2 linked regions of the Homo sapiens genome follow. The protein of the gene in region 2 purifies or fractionates together with the protein of the main gene of each other region. This does not show direct contact. Each region holds a gene or a part of one and is shown on either strand. Other genes may lie near its edges.

Region 1 (3,500 bases), on a different chromosome or scaffold from region 2:
CCCTACCCTGCCACTCCCATGCACAGTTCTGCACAGTGTCTGGCGCATATGGAGTAGATGCTCACCAGAGGCTGGTTGACTGTCGGAGATGATGGGTGGATTTGGTGTTTAAGTTGGAGTCTGGGCACTGGCTGGTCTCTGCCTGACCCAGCCACCCCACTGTGGCTCATCTCTTGCCACTTCCCCTCTCTGGCTCTGGATCTCGCCATGCCGAGCCCGCAAGCCTTCTCCAGATGCCATGTACTCTCTCCTCCAGGTAAACATGTGCTGTTCCTCCTGCCTGGAATGCTCTTTTTCCAGCTCCTACTCTTAGGAGTCAACTCAGACAACTCCTCCTCCAGAAAGCCTTCCCTGACCCCACTAGTCTGGGTCTAGTGCTTCTCCTGGCTCCCCCGCAGCAGAGCTCTGAGCTCTCAGACCGTCGCTACTGACTTGGCACCTCCTCAGTAGACCAGGTTCTGGAGGGAGGTGCTCTGTCAGAACCTCTTTTGTCTGCCAGGCGCGGTGGCTCATGCCTGTAATCCCAATACTTTGGGAGGCCGAGGCGGGCAGATCCCTGGAGGTTAGGAGTTTGAGAGCAGCCTGGCTAACATGGGGAAACGCTGTCTCTACTAAAAATACAAAAAATTAGCCAGGCTTGGTGGTGCGCACCTGAAATCCCATCTACTCGAGAGGCTGAGGCAGGAGAATCACTTGAATGCGGGAGGCGGAGGTTGCAGTGAACCGAGATTGCACCACTATACAAAAAAAACCTCTTTTGTCACCCCAGAGCCCAGCCAAGGGCCTGCTACCAAGCAGGCTCTCAGGAAGTGCTGGCGGTGTGGCAGGTAACTGCGACAGTCACACATGTGCCTGCTGACGGCAGCTCTCGCTTCCTTGTAGGGAGGCAGCGTCCATGGAGCAAAAGGAATGCCAGGATCCTGCACAGGCAGACGCGGGCCAGCCTCAGCACCGACAGCCGACGCGCAGATAGCAGAGCCATCCTTGGGGTAAGGACTGGGCCCCTCTCCTTCTCAGCCAGCTCCAGCTCCAGTCAAGTGCCCTTCCCAGCCTGGGGAGCAAAGGGTAGCATCTCCATCCCCACAGTCCTTTGCTTTTCTTGCTGTAGGTCCAGGGTAGAGTGGCAGACAGCAGAATTACTCTCTTCCTCCTTCTCCCGCTGAGTAATGTGTGCTTGCCGCACTCATTGAATGCTGAGTTGTTTCATTGCAAACCTCTGTTTTTTCTCCTTCACCCCAGATCTTATCAGTCTGGGTCTTGCTAATGCAGCCTCATGACCACATTTCCCAAAAAGCGTGGACCACGTTTCCCAAGTGTGTTCCATGAGACACCAGTTTCTTCGGTCACAGTGGTTTGATAATTCCAGGAAACAAAGACTTCTTGTTATCCTTGCTGCAGGACTTATCAGAGTCTTGAATCAGAGCCGTCATCAGGATTGAGCTGATCACGATAAGGGAGCTAGCGACTCGTGTTTCCCCACACTTATTTGATCGTGTAGACATCTTTGGGGACTGGGATTCCTTGGCCTGTGCTTTGGAAAACAGTTCCCAGAGGCAGGAGAGTCCCTTTAGAACATTTGGAGGATTAAATATGTTGACATAGAGCAGGCAGTTGGCAGAGTGCATGTCCTAGAAGGTGGTCCCGAGTCATAGCTGGTGTGTGTATAGACGGCTGTGTAATTTGCCAGACATACTCAGGTCGGTGATCTCATTTGACCATTTGAGGATGCTTAGGCAGTGGCCATTATCTCCAGTTTACAGATGTGGAAACTGAGAATCAGAGTGAGGAAGCAGCTTGCCCAGACTCATCTGTAAAGAAGGCAAGGACATGCGGCTTGAATCCAGACCCTGGAATCCTGGGCCAGGGTCTTCTGTTGTCTGCCCTGAGGCCTTCCTGCCTTTATCTCTCACCTCAGTTTTTTGTGTGAAGGAAGGCCTGAGTCTCCCAGCCTGGATTTTAAAAGAAATAGTAATTTTTTTTTTTTGTAATTACCAACATAGTTGTATATTCATTATATGGTTTTATACTGTTTGGCTATTTTTGGGGGACAGGGTCTCACTCTGTTGCCCAGGCTGGAGTGCAGTGGCACCATCATGACTCACTGCAGCCTCGATCTCCAAGGCTCCAGCGATCCTCCTGCCTCAGCCTCCCAACTAGCTGGGACTGCAGGTGTGCACTACTGTGCCCAGCTAATTTTATTTATTTATTTATTATGGAGATAGAGCCTCTCTACATTGCCCAGGCTGGTCTCGAACTCCTGGGTTCAAGAGATGCTCCTGCCTTGGCCTCCTAAAGTGCTGGGATTATGGGTGTGAGCCACCATGCCAGACCTGTTTGGATCTTTAATGTCATCTAGGAAATGAGTCTCTGCTGATTCTCATCTTCAGAGGTGTGAATGGGAAGGGGTATATTCTTCCACATCTATTGTTACCATTTGCTTATTTTTATAAAAATCTGGTCATGTTTGAGTTGCTGATTCACAGTTTGCTTTTGTTTCATATAATGATATCCCCCGGACCTCTTTTTTTTTTGAGATGGAGTCTTTGTCACCCAGGCTGGAGTGCAGTGGCACAATCTCAGCTCACTGCAAGCTCTGCCTCCCGGGTTCACTCCATTCTCCTGCCTCAGCCTCCCGAGTAGCTGGGACTACAGGCGCCCGCCACCACGCCCGGCTAATTTTTTTTGTATTTTTAGTAGAGACGGGGTTTCACCATGTTAGCCAGGATGGTCTTGATCTCCTGACCTTGTGATCCGCCGCCTTGGCCTCCCAAAGTGCTGGGATTATAGGCATGAGCCACCGCGCCCGGCTCCCCTGGACCTCTTTCCCATGCAAGAGGTAGATAGAGCTGTGTGTGGTCCTGGCAGAATGCACACCCTTGAGCCCCCCTGGCCCCTCCCCCTCACATGCTGGGAGTTTTGAGCTGTTTGGGCATTTACAGCAGCAGAGGGAGGTCGGAAGTGCCTGGTGTGTGATTGTGTCGACTCTCCTGTTTATGGGATAAGGTCAGCCAACTCCTGGCTCTGCCCCATAGGAGTTTCCTGTTGGTTTTGAGGAACTCTGTCCCCTGGAGAGAGGGGAGGCCTGAGCTGTAGTCTTTCATGCTGGGCAGCGCTGAGCAGGAAGCAGCAGGTCCTGCTTGTCAGATCATAATTCCTCCTTTTTGCCAAGGATGGCGTGGAATGAACCGCATGGGCCGGCCTGAGGGGTTTTGGCCTCCACCCACCACCTGGGTTCAGGGGACACACATGAATCAAGCTGAGACAAATTGAGTCTGAGCCATTGTTCTCCTGAGCCCAGCCCTTCCTGGGGATAGGAAGGAACAGGCAGACCCTGACTCAGTTTACCCTTGCTGTATCTGGAGGAAGTGTTGGTTGTGGTCCTTTTGGCATGCTCCTTTCAAGTTTTAGTTCTGAGAGTGGGCAGGTGAGGAGCAGGAGGAGGGCCCACCCTGCCACCTGGGTCCAAAGATGCTCTCTTTTGGGGTATAGCTGACCTCAGG
Region 2 (3,959 bases):
TCTGAAGTATTATAGAAGTAGCACCAAGAAGAAGCCATGGAAGAAAGAGAACTTCCTTCTTGGTACTGAGAAAAGTTACTTCACCTGTAGTGACACCATCTAGAAAGGAATGAAGGTCAAGTAAGACCACGAATGTGCATGTACTTTGCAGTTTCTGAAGTTGATATTCTGGCCAGACGTGGTGGCTCACCCCTGTAATCCCAGCACTTCGGGAGGCCGAGGCGGGTGGATCACTTGAGGCCAGGAGTTCGAGACCAGCCTGACCAACATGGCAAGACCCTATTGCTACTAAAGGTACAAAACTTAGCGAGGCATGGAGACGTGTGCCTGTAATCCCAGCTACTCAGGATGCTGAGGCAGGAGAATCACGTGAACCCGGGAGGCAGAGGTTGCAGTGAGCCAAGATCGCACCACTGCGCTCCAGCCTGGGCAACAGTGTGAGACCCTGTCTCTAAATAAAAAATAAATAAATAAATAAAGTTTACTCATACCCTCTTTAAGCATTCCCTACGGCACCCAAAGTATTCTGGTGTTTATGTTCATTTCCTTAGTGTCTAAGAAGTAATTTGTGCCTCTTTGCCAGAAATATGCTCGTGTTGCATTGCCGTTTCTTTGTATATATTACTTGCTTTCCGAAGTGTATTATGGGTTCCCTAAGGCCCACTTTTCTTTCTTTAATTCCTCTCATATTACACATAACTGATGTGCAAACAATTTGTGTGAACTTAGATTTCAATAGAAAAATTAGTTTATCTCATTTGATCGATTGGACAGAAAGATAATCAAATAAAAGTTGTTCTGTATCTCACTAATCTGTTTATAATTTCATATTTAATTCCATTGCTTAAGCATGCTAACACACGGTGCCAAAATATTAATAAATAGGCATGCTCTTGTATTACGTGCTTCTTCCTATTATCAGAAAAATAAAATGAATGCTTTTCCTCTATAACTGCTTCCTTAACTTTTACAGTTCCTCCAGAATGCATAAGACAATGCTGATATTTCAAGTCTCTCTCCTGCCTTTGCCATGGCTGTGCTTTCTACTACCTTTGCACACACCCTCTTGACCTTTGATAAATGTACTTTAAATGACTGATAGTCGTGATGATTGCATGCTTTCTCCTGATATAAAATCTCCTTGAAACACAGAAATGTTCTTGCTCCTGAAAGGTTCAATAATCACTCAACAACTCACCTCTTCAGAGAACTGAATGTACACAGAAGTCCTCTTCATCTCAGCTACTGATTCTCTCTAACCTGCTTTACCTATTCAACCATGAGGGTCTTGTTTTTTGTCTTTGGAGTCCTTTCCTTGATGTTCACAGTTCCTCCAGGTAAGACAGAAACTTTTTTATTCCAAAGTTCTAAAAATATAAGTAAAAGAAAATGCAAGGTCTTTCAAGAGTCTGAAAATAAAATAGGCATGGGCAGATTTTACTGTACCATGAAGGCTGCTCAGAGGATTGAAGAGTTGATACTAAAGAAATAAATAAGGTGGTTCACTGCAGTGATTTAACCTATGATAAACTCACTTGAGGCCGGGCACAGTGGCTCATGTCTATAATCCCAGCACTTGGGGAGTTTGAGGTGGGTGAGCACAGGAGTTCTAGACCGACCTGGTGGGGGCAACAGGGTGAAACCCCATCTCTCCAAAAAAAAAAAAAAAATACAAAAAATTAATCAGGTATAGTGGCGCGTGTCTGTGGTTCTGGCTACTCAGGAAGCTTAGGCAGGATCGCTCGAGCCTGAGATGTCAAGGCTGCATTCAGCTTAGGTCATGCCACTGCACACCAGCCTGGGCAACAGAGTGAGACCCTGTCTCAAAAAATAATAATAATAAAAAATAAACTTACTTGAGAGTTATGTTTGATCAAAAGATGGTGAGAGGATACACACAGAACACAGGAAATTTAAAGAATTGGAAAAAGGAAAAGTGAATGATGACTAGAAGAAGGGCTAGAGGTGAAGAGGTGGATACTCCACCATAATCCTTGGTTCACAGGATAAATTCACCACTGATCCAGGCAAGGACCTAGCCTCTGTGTTCCTTTAAAGTTGAATAAAACTCATATGATATCATTTAATGTATATGGAAATTACTTTTTGTATGGTGAGAGTTAAGATTCCACCTTAATTTTTAACCACATAACTAGCCAATTATATATAAGCATATTAATTAAATAATCAATACGACTTTCCCACATTAATTTTAAAATTCATCAATACCCCATAATAAAAACATATTAAACTGCGGTTCATACCTGAGATTTAGATTACTGGTTGACTTATTGATCATTTCTGAAGCACATTTTAATACTTAACAATTCAAGATTCCCTCATTTATATAATACTTCATGATTCAAGATTCCCTTATTTATATAATTATAAATAATTATGCCTTTCCTCCATGAATGTTAGTGGGTTTTTTATATTTTTATGAGATACAATTTACCATAAAATTCATTGCCTTAAAGTGTTCTATTCAGTGGTTATCAGTGTATTCTTAAAATTGTGCACCCCTCACCATTATCTAATTCCAGAATATGTTTATAACCGCAAGAAGAAATCTCTCCTCCTCCCAGTCCCTAGCAACCACTGATCTAATTTTTGTCTCTATGTATATTCCTATTCTGGACATTTACTATGAACAGAATAAGAAATATGTGATCCTTCATGTCTGCCTTCTTTTATTTAGCATAATGTTTTCAAGATTCATCCATGTTGTGGCATAGATTCGTACTTCATTCCTTCATTCAGTGGTCATCAGTATATCCCACTCTAAGAATCCACTGATACTCACTAAATGGAACACTCTAAAGGAATGAATTTTATAGTAAATTCTATCTCAATAAAAATATAAAACACCAACATTCATGGAGGAAAAGTATAATTCTGTATAATTATATAAATGATAGAATCTTGAAATAAATTTTAAAATGTGCTCGGAGGTAATATGAGCCTCAGAAAAGATAAATAAGTCAATTGATAATCTAAATCTCAGGTATAAACCACAGTTTAATATGATTTATTATAAAGTATTGGTGGATTTTAAAATGAATTTGGGAAAGTTAGATTGATTATTGGTGTTGGTAAAAAAAAATTCTTCGTATGGATTATTTAGCATATGGTTGTTTATAACAGACTAATGATCCATTGTATTTCTTTTATATCAGTTGTAATGTCTCCTGTTTTATTTCCGATTTTATTTATTTGGCATTCTCTCTTTTGTTCTTGGTTAGTCTAGCTAGCAGTTTATAAAGTCTGTTTATCTCTTCCAAAAGTCAACTTTTTGTTTCATTAATTCTTTGCATTTTTTAAATCTTGAATTCACTTAGTCCTGCTCTGATTTTTATTATTTCTTTCCTTCTCCTAAGTTTGGATTTCATTTTTTCTTGTTTTTCTTGTTCCTTGAGGTGCATAGTAGCTTGTTTATAATATTACCATGTTCTTGCAGTAGGCATTTATTGCTATAAAATTCTCTCTTAGCACTGTCTTTGTTGTATTCCATAGGTTTTGGTATGTTGTGTTTCCATTTGCATATATTTCAAGAACATTTGTTATTTTCTTCTTTGTTTTTTCATTGACTCAATGGTTGTTCAGAAGCATGTTGTTTAATTTCCATGTTATCTGTATCGTTTCCAAAGTTCTTCCTAGTATTCATTTCTAGTTCTATTCTATTTTTGTCTAGAATATACTTGATATAATGTTGATTTTTCAAAATTTGTTGAAACTTGTTTTGTGTCTTAACATATGGTCCAGCCTGGAGAATGTTCTATGTGATGAGGAGAAGAATGTGTACTCCACAGCTATTGGATGAAGTGTTCTGTAAATGTCTGTTAAGTCTATTTGGTCTGCGGTACAGATTAAATTCAATGATTATTTGTTAGCTTTCTACCTAGATGATCTGTTCAATGCTGAAAGTGGGATATTGAAGCCCTCAGTTATCATGATGTTGA

What was found.
Region 1: the proteins of DEFB131A (region 2) and LRRC8A purify together in Homo sapiens (affinity purification with mass spectrometry; one large-scale study listed by BioGRID and IntAct). This does not show direct contact.

What each region holds. Positions count from the first base shown.
Region 1 is NC_000009.12:128,885,133-128,888,632, forward strand, and holds part of LRRC8A (volume-regulated anion channel subunit LRRC8A), read left to right. Parts: exon of another isoform or gene 1-256; intron 257-882; 5' UTR 883-989; intron 990-3,500. UniProt on the Homo sapiens protein: Essential component of the volume-regulated anion channel (VRAC, also named VSOAC channel), an anion channel required to maintain a constant cell volume in response to extracellular or intracellular osmotic changes.
Region 2 is NC_000004.12:9,443,255-9,447,213, forward strand, and holds the start of DEFB131A (beta-defensin 131A precursor), read left to right. Parts: upstream 1-1,159; 5' UTR 1,160-1,279; coding exon 1,280-1,337; intron 1,338-3,959.